Homo sapiens: one gene and its partner. The protein of the gene in region 2 interacts with the protein of the main gene of each other region in a pairwise test. Each region holds a gene or a part of one and is shown on either strand. Other genes may lie near its edges.

Region 1 (7,130 bases), on a different chromosome or scaffold from region 2:
TACCTGGCTTCAAACTATACTACAAGGATACAGTAAGCAAAACAGCATGGTACTGGTACCAAAACAGACATATAGACCAATGGAACAGAACAGAAACTTCAGAAATAACACCACATGTCTACAACCATCTGATCTTCAACAAACCTGACAAAAACAAGCAGTGGGGAAAGGATTCTGTATTTAATAAATGGTGCTGGGAAAACTGGCTAGATGTATGCAGAAAACTGGAACTGGATCCCTTCCTTACACCTTATTAAAAACTTAACTCAAGATGGTTTAAATACTTAAATGTAAAACCCAAAACCATAAAAAACCTGGGCAATACCATTCAGGACATAGGCACGGGCAAAGACTTCATGACACCAAAAGCAGTTGCACCAAAAGAAAGCAATAATTCTTATAGGAGGAGGAGGACAAAGTGTCTTTATGATAGGTCTCTGGAGAACAGGGGGATGGGAATAAATGTCGTGACTGGGTGTGGTGGCTCACGCCTGTAATCCCAGTACTTCGGGAGGCCAAGGCAGGAGGATCACTTGAGGCCGGGAGTTCGAGACCAGCCTGGGCAAAATGGTGAGACTCCACCGCTACAAAAAATGTAAAACTTAGCCAGGTGTGGTGGTGTGCACCTGTAGTCCCGGCTACTGGGGAGGCTGAGGTGAGAGGATCAGTTGAGCCCAGGAGGTTGAGGCTGGCAGTGTACTCTAGCTTGGGTGACAGAGTGAGACCTTGTCTCAAAAAATAATAAATGTCATGATAGATACAGGATGATGCTCATGAAAATAATTAAGTATATATGAGAAGAAAATAATTCAAGTGAGAAACAACAGGGCAATTACTAACTTAAGGAAAAACAAAAGACTATACCGTATAAGAAAAGAGATGTAATCATAATATTGTAACTTGGCTCTGTAATGGACAATATCTACCTAGTTATAATGATTCAGAGAATGACACTTTAAATAAAATTGGTGATATAACTACGTCTAATCGTATAATTCACGAGGTGACTTTGGTTTAGACATTTCTGTCTCTGGGCCTCAGTTTTCTCAGCTGTGAAATTAGAGTGTGAGTCCTTTCTGCATCTTTGAAAGTTACCTAAGCCCTTGACAAGGTTTGAAAGGCAGCCATTTGCAGAAGTTACCTCCTCCTACAAAAACTGTTTTTGATGTGCTGCTAATGTTTCCATAAAACAAAAAGAAAGCCAAGTTATTTTAATAGGTTAGCATAAAAAGGAGGTATAAATAAATATAAAGGTAGGTAGCTTTACAGATACCAAGGCTAGGTAGGGATAATTTCCTTAATTTTCACTGAATTAACACAAGTCCATAAAAGAATATTAAACAACCCAAAAGAAAAATATGCTAAGAATATAGACAAAATCCTCAAGTTAAAATATGTAAGTACATAGTAAATATATGAAAAAAGAAGAGGGCTCCTTCATAATTAGAGGAATGCAAAGTGAAATAAGTTATAGCTTTTCATCTGTGAGACAGGCAGAATATTTAAAGTTGTCCATACCCAGTGCTGGAAAAGGAGTGGGAAAAAAGGCACTTTCGTAGACTGTTGGAGAAAGTGTTAACATAGGAGATTATTTGTCAACAGCATAGTTTTTGAACTTTTGAAATCCCACTTGTAGGAATTTATCTTATGCACGTTTATCAGGATATAATATGTAAAAGGCTATTCATTGTGGCATTGCTTGTTTCTAGAAAGATAAACGAATGAGTCAGGAATTGAATAGCCACTTTTCTCAGTAAACCGCCCATAAAGAGTAGCCCCTGGTGGCAGCCTCTGGTAATGCAGGCATAGTGTTTAGGAGGCTAATTTAGGTGACACTGTTCATCACCCTTGTTGATTTACCTTTAAGAGTATTGTCAACTGTCTCAAGTCCCTCGTGAAGAACAGGTTCCAGCTTATCCACGACATTGCTTAGGTCATTGCCAAGATTGTCAAGAAGAGACTCTGAGGTCCCAGTGAGCACGCCGCACAGGAGAACAAGTTTCCAAAGCTGAAGCATCTTTTGTCTTGACACCTGGACAGTCATGGGAAGAACAGGAGTGAGAATTGCCCAGAGGGAAATGGACTCTTCAGTGAGTTCCCATCACTCTTAACATTTAGCATTCCATTAAGATAGATGTGGTTATTTCCTATTTTACAAATGGGCAGCCAAGGTCAGAAAGCTACAGCAACTTGCCCGGAGACACACAGTCAGTGAGCAGAGGAGCTGGGATTTGAAAAGTCAGACTTGACTCCAAGCCCATACTCTTGACACAAAGTTCCTTTTCATACGCTGTCTTCTCTGCCTAAAATATTTTTCTTCTTCTTTACTTTTCCACTTAGGTCAATTCCTACATCATGCCCTCTGTGAAGCCTACTGTAGGCCCCTTCCCAGATTCTAGGTTGGAGGAGTCCCACCTTGCTGCCTTCATTATCCTGATCAAGGTCTTGGATAACACTTCCCTGATGATTTGACCACCTTTCCTACCAGGCTGTGAACTCCTTAGAGGAAGGACTGTGACTTATTTCACTGTCGAATCCTCAGGCGCCAGTAAAAAGCCTGCACCTAGTACAGTACAGTAAACGAATAAATCTTTGTTGAATATAAGTATGAACAAATCAATGGAGACCACCTCATGACCCTGCATTGTTCATTAGTTTGACACTTATTTTAATATAATCTATAGATCTCTAAATTTACTCTGATTTGCCATTTGTCTTGACACCTGGACAGTCATGGGAAGAACAGGAGTAAGAATTGCCCAGAGGGAAATGGAATCTTTAGTGAGTACTCATCACGAACTTGCCATTTAGAGCACATTTAGAGATATATTGATTATCTCTGCTGTATTCAAAATATTAGCTAACCCAAGCAATCCCACCCCTCTGCCTCTTGCCCCCAAAGCCTTCCAAAGACCACCACGTGTGGTGCCACTGGGGGGAGCACGCCACTCACGCGTTTAGAGGAGGATGCTCATGAAATCCTTGCCCCACTGCACAGTCTGCTGGGATTCTGCTGAATGGTGGCGGCTATTATATGGTGGAGATGGGATGGAAGGCTGCCCACAGAAGCAAGCCTTGGTTCTGGGATCATCCAAGGACACTCCAAGGAAAATAACCCCTCTCCAGGATGAGCAGAGAGAGAGATTTCCAACTCAAAGGTCACCCAGGATGCTTGAATTGAAACGGATGGCTATGGAGAGGGCTTTCCGCCAAGACTAAGACCAGGTCCTCATGGAGCCTGCAGCTACCGAGGGGGTGGTCCTTGGTCCTTGTGGGTGAGGACTGGGAGAAGACTGAGAATGAATGAATTGGAGAATGTCCTGGCAGGAGGACCCATAATGACCATCCGGTCTAACTCCGTCATCATTTGGAAACTGAGGCTCAGAGAGGGGAAGCCACCAGCCTGGGGTCATTCAGCAAGACAGGGACCGAGATGGGTCTAGAATTGTGGCCCACAAGGAGTCAGACAGCCTCCCAGGGGTCCTGCCCCCAGGGGTCTGCACCCGGCAGGTGCAGCAGATGCCTGGCAGCTGCTTGTGCTGACACTGGGCTTGGTGTCCCTAAAGGGCACTTTAGATGCACTTTTCTGTTAGTCTTTATGAAAACTCTGTAAGGCAGGTTTTCAGAGCTCCATTTTCCAGTTGAGAAAGCTGAAGTTCAGAGAGGGAGGTGGCTTGTCCATACTTGCAAGGACAGGAACCAGGCATTTGGGCCACCAGGGAAGACCCTTCCACCCATATCAGGCTGAGGTCAGTTAGCAGAGAGGGAGAGTCCCTGGGCCTGAGTATCCTGTTTTTGCTTCGGCCACTGATGTTTGGGTTGGTTGTAACGCCTGCTGCATTGGGCCTGTGTCAACCCGGAACAGCACAGGAAACTCGGGTGGGTGCCCACTTGGCCTCAGGCTGGGAAGGACTGGCACAGAGCTCAGGGTCACCATAGGTCTCTGCCCTTCTGCTCACCCACCTGCAATTCAGCAAGGACCTGGGGGGCCTGTCCTCAAAATGATGCAACCAAGCAAACGGTGGGACAAGACCAGTGGCTCCAGGAGCTGGCTGTTCCTACACTGACCATGGCTCCACTGTTACAGCACAGAGCTGGGCGGCTGCAGGAAGGTGATGGCCAGGCCCCAAGAGCCCAGACCATTAGACCCCTGCTGCAGTCTTGCCTGTGGTCTTGAATGGTTGTCACACCTCCTTCCCTGGCTGCCTGACACCGGGTTCTCCAAACGTCTGAGCCCCGCTCTTCCCCCAGTTGTGAAGCACAGAGCCAAGGGCTGTGCTGAAATCTTGTGAAGGCAGTTTGTCCCAGCCCAGGAACATAGCCCAGGGTGCTGAGCATGATGCAGTGACCTCGAGACCTGGTGTTGGCCCAGGCCTCAGTTGCCTCATCTGTAAAATGGGTAAACACGCTGTTCCTGGATCTCAGAGGCATGGTGGACAGGCAAGGACCTAGGAAATCAAAACGATGGTGAGGGGCTTTGAGGGCAGTGCTCAGAGCCTGGCACTGGGCTTGGGCTGTCCTGGGCATGAATACTCTCTCTCTGCTGGTTGCTGGCCATGTGACCTGGGCCAGAGACCGCACCTTGCTGAGCCTCAGGCTCTTTATCTGTGAAATGGGACTAAGAACAGTGCTCACCTCAAGGGCATGCTGTGAGGTCAAATTAGTGTAATACCCATGAAGGCTTAGCATAGGGTAGGCCCATGATGCACGGCAACAGCAAAGATGGCGAAGAAGATGCTGATGAATATGTGCGCATATGGTCCCGGCTTACGATGGTTTGACTTCAATATTTCAACTTTACTATGGGTTTACTGGGACACAACCCATTATAAAATGAGGACCATCTGGCCAGGCATGGTGGTTCACACCTGTAATCCCAGCACTTTGGGAGGCCGAGGCGGGCAGATCACCTGAGGTCAGGAGTTCGAGACCAGCCTGGCCAACATGGTGAAACCCTGTCTCTACTAAAAATACAAAATCTAGCCGGGTGTGGGGGCAGGCATCTGTAATCCCAGCTACTCTGGAGGCTGAAGCAGAAGAATTACTTGAACCCAGGGGGTGGATGTTGCAGTGAGCCAAGATTGTGCCACTTCACTATAGCCTGGGCAAAAGAGCGAAACTCCGTCTCAAACAAACAAACAAAAATAAAATAAAATGAGGAGCATCTGTCATAAGATTAATATTATATAATATATAATATAGGGTCCTTGGTGGGTGGGGAGGTTGGGATCCTCAGAGGTCACCCGAGGTTCAGGCTGGCTGGTCTGAGTCATTCCGGAAAAAGAAACAGTGACAACTCCTCCTGTGTGCTCCTCCTCCTCCTCTTCTTCCCTCTCCAGGTTACACAAAGTCTTCTCACATAGAAGATGTTTGCCTCTTAGGGACAAAGGCCCCAGCCATGAGGGTCGCGAGATGAATTTCTTATTGAAAATTCCCAGTGAGGCATTAAAGATTAGCTGTGCCAAGACTAGGACATCCTACCTGCTGCGTGACTGCTAATCCCCAGCTGGGGCAGCTTCCTGATCCCACTGGCCCAGCCTTAACCTCCAAGCTGGTATCTTTTTCCATACCTGGCTCAGTGCCCTGGCTAGAAACAGCCTAAGAGGTCATGCAGCCTACTGAGACCAGAGAAAGCGAGTGACAGGGCTGGGGTTGCATGAGGGGCCAGCCAGGCTGGGGGGTGCTCAGCTGACCAGACTGCCCACTGACCTTCCTTCTCCTGTGGACAGAAGCAGCCCCCACCCCTTCTCCAGATAACAAACACACAGGTGTGCACTCCCATTGCACCCATCAAAGATAATTGCCTTATTTTGCTAGTAAAATTGCTGAAAGGCTTGTCACCATTTTGCCTGTGAAATCAGTCAAGTACGAATCATCCATCCAATTTCTAGTAGGTCCTGGTTTCTCACACTTGAACTGCCTACTCAGGAATTCTGGGCAAATAAGAAAGATCAAAGCAACAAAACCTGTTCACACGTTACTGTCCTTCCTGTGACTGCTAAATAGAGCAATTAATAAAGTTGTCACAATGTTACAGTCTGAAGACCTTTAATTCAACTTTTGGTAATTTTGACTTTGCCGGGTTTTCTTCTGGTGACACAGTTTATTCTTTCAGCGCTCAAGTATTTCCCTAAGTCCCGGATTCCACATCTGGACACTAATAGACCCCTCTCAAGTCCTGCCTTTAGAATATGGAGAGCCACTTCCTATGGACTGACAGATGGAGGGGGCCTTGCCCCACTGCAGGCTGGAGTCTTCTTCCTCCTGTCCCATGGAATGTTCCCTGAATGCTTCATCCAACACTCCCAGAGAAAATTTAAAGGAGTTTTCACCGGGTCAGGGTCCTCCCCTGGGTCCTTTGAAGTCTGGGCACCTTGTCTTCGTTCACCTTCGTTCCCCCAGAGCTGGCACAGGGTCTGGTCTACAGCAGGAGTCAAATGATGTTTGTGGCAGGAAAGAAAGGAAAAAGAGAGAGAGAGAAGGAGGAAAAAAGAGAGAGGAAGGAAAGAGAGAGGGAGGGAAAGAAGGAAAGAGAGGGAAGGAGGGAGGGAAGAAAGGCAGGAAAGGAGAGAGGGAAGGAAGAAAGAAAGAAAGAAAGAAAGAGAGAGAGGGGATGTGGAGAGAGAAGAAGAAAGGGAGGAGAAAAGGAAGAGAAGAAGGGAGGGAGGGAGGTCAGCCACGTCTCGCCAGTCCCACTCTCTGAGGGCAAGACCACAGCATCTCCGAGGTCCCAGTACCCAGCACAGGGTCTGGTTCCCCTCATGGGCATTGACTTTCTGTCTTCCCCAGGTGGGTGGGCCTCTTGACATGAGCGAGCTCTCTGGGTCGCTCCCTGTTCTCACCTCACTCCCTGGAATTTGGCCCCTCAATCTCTCTGTGCCCTCTCTCATCTTCCAGATCCTCCCTGCTAAAGTGGGCCTGGCCCTGTATCTAGTCATCTGTCCATTTATTTATTGTTCATTCACTTTACAAGTGCAAATTATTTTCTGCTGGAGCCACTCATGCTTTTGACAACCCTTTAGTGGGCACCCCAAGCCCTGTGATGGGGTCAAAGATGTCTGAAGCTCAGTCCTTGTCCCAGAGACAGGCCAACTCCAGGGCAGTAGGTGAGCTGATTCGATCGGCCCATG
Region 2 (5,072 bases):
TTATCAAAACAAAACTCAACTCTAAACTCTGAAGAATGTACAAATTCCAGTGAGTTCTTGATGACTATAAAGACCCTGTTATTCTCACACAGGGTGGAGGCAGGAATTTCGCAAACTACACAAATAGCTGTAGTTTTACCAGCACCACCCTAATAATTTTGCTTCACACTTTCCCAATCATTGAACAGTTCCTAAGATAATGTGCCTATTTTGTTTTTAGCATTGTTAGCCACATCTAGAAATGTGACAAGGAGTCTAAATTGCTTCTTTGGAAGTATTTAAAGCCATTTGTAAGTCTTCCTCTGTGGTTCCCTAAAAATGTTGTTTAAATGTGTATTCTAACTTTCCAACAAGAGGGACAGTTTATGGATGGGAAATGGATTTGTTTCTTTTCTATCCTAGATATATCTAAAATCTAGTATTCTATATAGGCACTCAACAAGATTGTGCAGCCAACTCCCACAACTACAGAGACAGCTTTTCATTTAAACATCACACTTCTGTAATAAACACTTACAAAGGTAAGAACGTTTTAATTAAATGGATTTATTTAAAAAGACTATAAAATCTGACATCAAGAGAGATAAAAAAAAAAGACCCATAAGATTTAAATTGACAAATATAAAATGATTGGCTACAATGTAAAAATACATTTCCCAGCCCCCAAACAAAACACAAGTATAGTAATTATAAAATTTTTGTACTGTGAGTTCATTTCTCTTATAATTCTTGAGAACCATTCTAAGCAATCTATTTGTATAAAATATAAAATTTATCATAACTGTTAATTTAAAAATTATTTTAAATTTGAGTTTATTGAATTTGCCATTTTTTTGTACATAACAGTGGTTTCTGGTCCCAAGTTCCCCTTGAACTTATTTACTACAATGGTCTTTTTACTCCTATTTATTTCCTTCTACAATAGAAAAGAAAGGCTAACCATTCATGGGTCCCATAAAAAACAATGTGAAGGAAGGTTCTAAGAGTGACCAAATATACCAGTGAACATACTATCTTTCTGAAAAAGAAAGAATTAAGTGACCAACTAAGAGATCCACTTTTGCACCAATGAAACACATGGAGGTGAAACCTCAGAACAAGCGGAGCTTAAGCTCAATGACAGTATGTTTTATATGACAGGCCAGCTGAGAATGTATCTGTCAATCCTGACTAAGCCCAATACATGGGTGGTGACCCTGAGGTAGCCCAGATGATATGCTCTGAATTTTAGATAGGTCTAAATCACAATGGTACAGTCTGATGTGAAACTTTAGTCTACCTACCATAAACTCGTTTTCTGAATCAGTCCTTATTCATAATTAGACCCAAAACCCAGCTATTTCTCCTCTCTTAGATGACATGCCCAATAAAAACAGCATCCATGATTGGTTTCATTATCTCCCAATTAAGTAGTGGTGACACCACCACTAACACTAGTATCCAAACTCTGATACAAATCCTAAAGGTATTGAGTCAGTAAGACAGAGCAGAAGCTATGTTGGGCCATACTGACCAATTTCTGAGAACCACATTAGCCACATTCATGCAATTAAAACCCATCTAAGACACACAAATGGCAGATGAGAAAAAAAAAAAAGGATGAGGTCATTAAACTTTATCACTGGAAACATGATTCCACTGTTTCAAATAGGAAACCTACCCTGGGAGACTTCCACCAAAGTGCAGAAGGACCTGATGCACGGGCTCATCATCTTAACACTAGAGTCCCAAGTCAAAACTCTAGGAGGAGGATAAGAAAGGTCTAGTCTGTGAATCACCTGGACAGAAAGGTCATATCCCAAGTGCCCTGCCTATCTGTGACAGCTGCTAGCCAACAGACAATTCTGGTTATGAAGTTATCTCTTGAGAATGGCTTGATTCTCTTATGCCACCAACAGTATTAGTCTGGGCAGGGTTCCCTGGATATTTACTTTTTTTTTTTTTTTTTTTTGCCAAAGACAAACTAGAGCAATGCCTATGTAAGAACAAGGACTCTCAAGATCCTGCTACACAGTATTCACAATCAAAAGGGCCCAAGATTCAGGACCACCTAAAGACAACTGACAAAAAGTGTCAGAGCCAGAGGCCAACCTCTGCTAGATGAAGCAGCAGCACATGACTCCATTTCTATCTGATAAGGAGACAGAGAAGAGGCATCTCGAACAGATGAAAAACCAAAGGCTGGTGTCCTAAAAAAAACAGATTGGCTTCAAAGAAAACACTAAGGAAGACCCACAGAGCTGTATTAATTTTAGTAAAAATAATCATATGCCAACAGGGGAATTGAACCACTTTCTAAATCATAGTATGAACTCATCTCTTCAGATACTTGGTAAGTGGTCAAAGCTTGTTTTTATAATTACTTTCACTGTCTTGGGCAAAAAGTCTTTCTTATCTTTGGTCCTTAGGTGTGGTATCAGTTTCTTCCATTTTTTTATGTGTTACAAAACAATCTTTTTTTTACTTGACATCAACAACCAAGGTGCAGTATAAACACGAAGTTGCTGATATTGTTGCTTTTATACACATAAAATACCAACATCTCCCATACATTTTATAGGCTATACGAAGGTCTCAAAGAATTAATAACCGTTATCCAAAAATATTATAACATTTAAGGCTGAGTGAAATACAGTAAAGCCTGGTAATATATGTTAAGGAAAAAAACCTAGACCAACATTTTAAATATTGGTTTCTTAAATATGTTAAATTCCCATTAACAGAACATAATCTAAGCATCAAAACAAACAGCTAAGCAAATTAATTTAAAAATAAAACAATTTCTAAGTAGATGAATATAATCACGATGTTTATACAGCTATAAAGCATAATTTGGAAGCTAAGCCTAGTAAAAGAATGACCTGTAACAGAATGACAGAATCATTTATCAACCGTTGAGCTGTGTGATTTAAAAACAATTGTTTTCTCCTCCTCCCACCAAAATCTCCATTTGAGATAAGTTTCAATTATTATTTAAAAAAAAATTTTTTTTAACTTATCTGGCCTACTTTGTGGTGACTGACACAATATTGATAAAACTGCCTTCTTGACCTTCCCCTTGCTCTCCAAAAGAAGTGGTTTAAACAATTAACAAATTTTACAAGAGCTTCTGCCAGGGCTCAGGCACCACAATGCAGGGTCACTACCTTAGGTAACATCTGCTCCCCAGAGTCTTTAGGCATTAAGTGGCTCAGTGAGGGCTTCAGCCCTAGTGGTATTTTCAGGTTTTCTCAGCTGGGACTCCTGTCGTTTTTCATACAGCATAGTGATAAAGTCAAGTAGGAACATAAAACTTGCTATAAATCCAAACACCTGAGGAAAAAAAGGAGGAAAGGTTATATGAGAATTTTGGAATATAATCTTACATTTCCTACTTGGCTTGGAGAATGTTTCATATAAACAAGATGTTCATGAATTTTATCTTATACACGACTACTCTTTAATGGTAAAAAAAATTTTTTTAAGTCATCAAAAAATGGAAAGAAGTTATAAAAGAAAAACTTCCAGAATAATGGCTATTAGTCAAAGTCTCACAAAATATTAATGTTCTGCCTTATGTGTGCATGTTTATATGTGGAGGGCTAATATATGAAAGTAGGGTTAACAGATAAACATTAAATCCTATAAAATGATACAAAACAAAAATATTTGCATGGTTAGATTGACCCACAGATGCGATAAGGAAAATACGTGACTAGGCAACTCAGCCTAGGTGAAAATGAAAAAAGTTATTAATATCAAAACAGAAATTCCATTTTGAAGATACTATTAGGTTAAATTACTTAAATAATGTTCCAGTTGTCACACTGCAATGACACAGTGACATGACGCCACTACCTACTTCCTCTTCCTTAAATCACTTCCTCAACTGTTCTCTTCTAAAATACGATCATACGTTCTGAGAATTCTATCAAGAGACAGAAGACCATGCGTCTGCTTCAAATTTAGCTTCTCCACTAGCAAAACCCTTAAGGATATGGGGGCCAGATAAGTTCTCTGTAAAAAAGAGAAAATTGATGTAGGTGATGGCTAAAGTCTCTTCCAAATCTAAACTCCCTATCTCCACGATTTTTATTAATAACATTCTCTTACAGTCTGTTGCAGTCTCCTGACCTCTCCTCCCCCCTCTAAAGAATAAGCATTCCACCTCATTTTACCACAAAGTAAACTGAGCTCCAAATTCATTAAGTCCCCCAGATATCCCCAACATATCCAATCTAAATTTAATTATCAACGCCTCCCACCCTCCCATCCCCCGCCACAAAAGCCAAGTCTTTTTCCCTCTGGAATCTTTATTTTTGACTTGATGGCATTTATCCCCTTATTTTCCTGGCAACTTTCTTAAATACATCAAACTCAGACCAAATGTCACCCTTGTTTTTGAAGCTGTCTCTGATCACCACAAGTCATCTTCTAGCTCTTTTGTTCACACACTTCTGAATTAAAAAAAAAAAAAGAACTTCCTCATGCATTTAAGTCTATAAAACTTTTCATAATTTAAATAGTTACAAAAGGTAATTTCCAGCATATTATAAATATCAGCTTTTTAAACTACCTGTCACTATTAAATATATCCAATGAAATATAAATACTGGGACAGTCTAATTAAAATATAAAAATTTTTTTTATAGCTGTAAATTTTTTCCCTGGAACTCAATTTTTCCTCAACTTCATTTCACTTTCCCCACAGAATTTTATAGTAATGTATTTTTATACAAATAAGTAGCCAGAGCTTTTTAAAATTAAAAATGAGTTAAAAAACTCATTATTTTATTGATCACCATCTCATACTCCTCTGCAACAAAAATGTTTCTAAACTGAAATTAACCATAAAGCCCTATTAAAACTTTGATTTTTCTCTTCTATTGGTTCATGTACCCATGAATAAATATTGCTTATTGCTAGAATGAATCAAGATTCAGTGTTAATTTTATTTCTATGTTTTGTTTTTACACATGTAAGTGCTAAGAAACTGTTGTCATATGAATAGATAAATATAGCCATGCAATTCTCTGAACTCCTTTTGAGTTTTCTATCATAAAATGCAGTTTTAATGATGTATTAGCTGACAA

Evidence for each region.
Region 1: the proteins of CMTM6 (region 2) and BPIFA2 interact in binary tests that used the Homo sapiens proteins (3 or more experiments, as listed by UniProt).

What each region holds. Positions count from the first base shown.
Region 1 is NC_000020.11:33,164,033-33,171,162, reverse strand, and holds the start of BPIFA2 (BPI fold-containing family A member 2 precursor), read right to left. Parts: upstream 3,005-7,130; 5' UTR 2,954-3,004; intron 2,033-2,953; 5' UTR 2,018-2,032; coding exon 1,861-2,017; intron 1-1,860. UniProt on the Homo sapiens protein: Has strong antibacterial activity against P.aeruginosa.
Region 2 is NC_000003.12:32,480,786-32,485,857, forward strand, and holds the end of CMTM6 (CKLF-like MARVEL transmembrane domain-containing protein 6), read right to left. Parts: intron 3,313-5,072; coding exon 3,175-3,312; 3' UTR 527-3,174; downstream 1-526. UniProt on the Homo sapiens protein: Master regulator of recycling and plasma membrane expression of PD-L1/CD274, an immune inhibitory ligand critical for immune tolerance to self and antitumor immunity.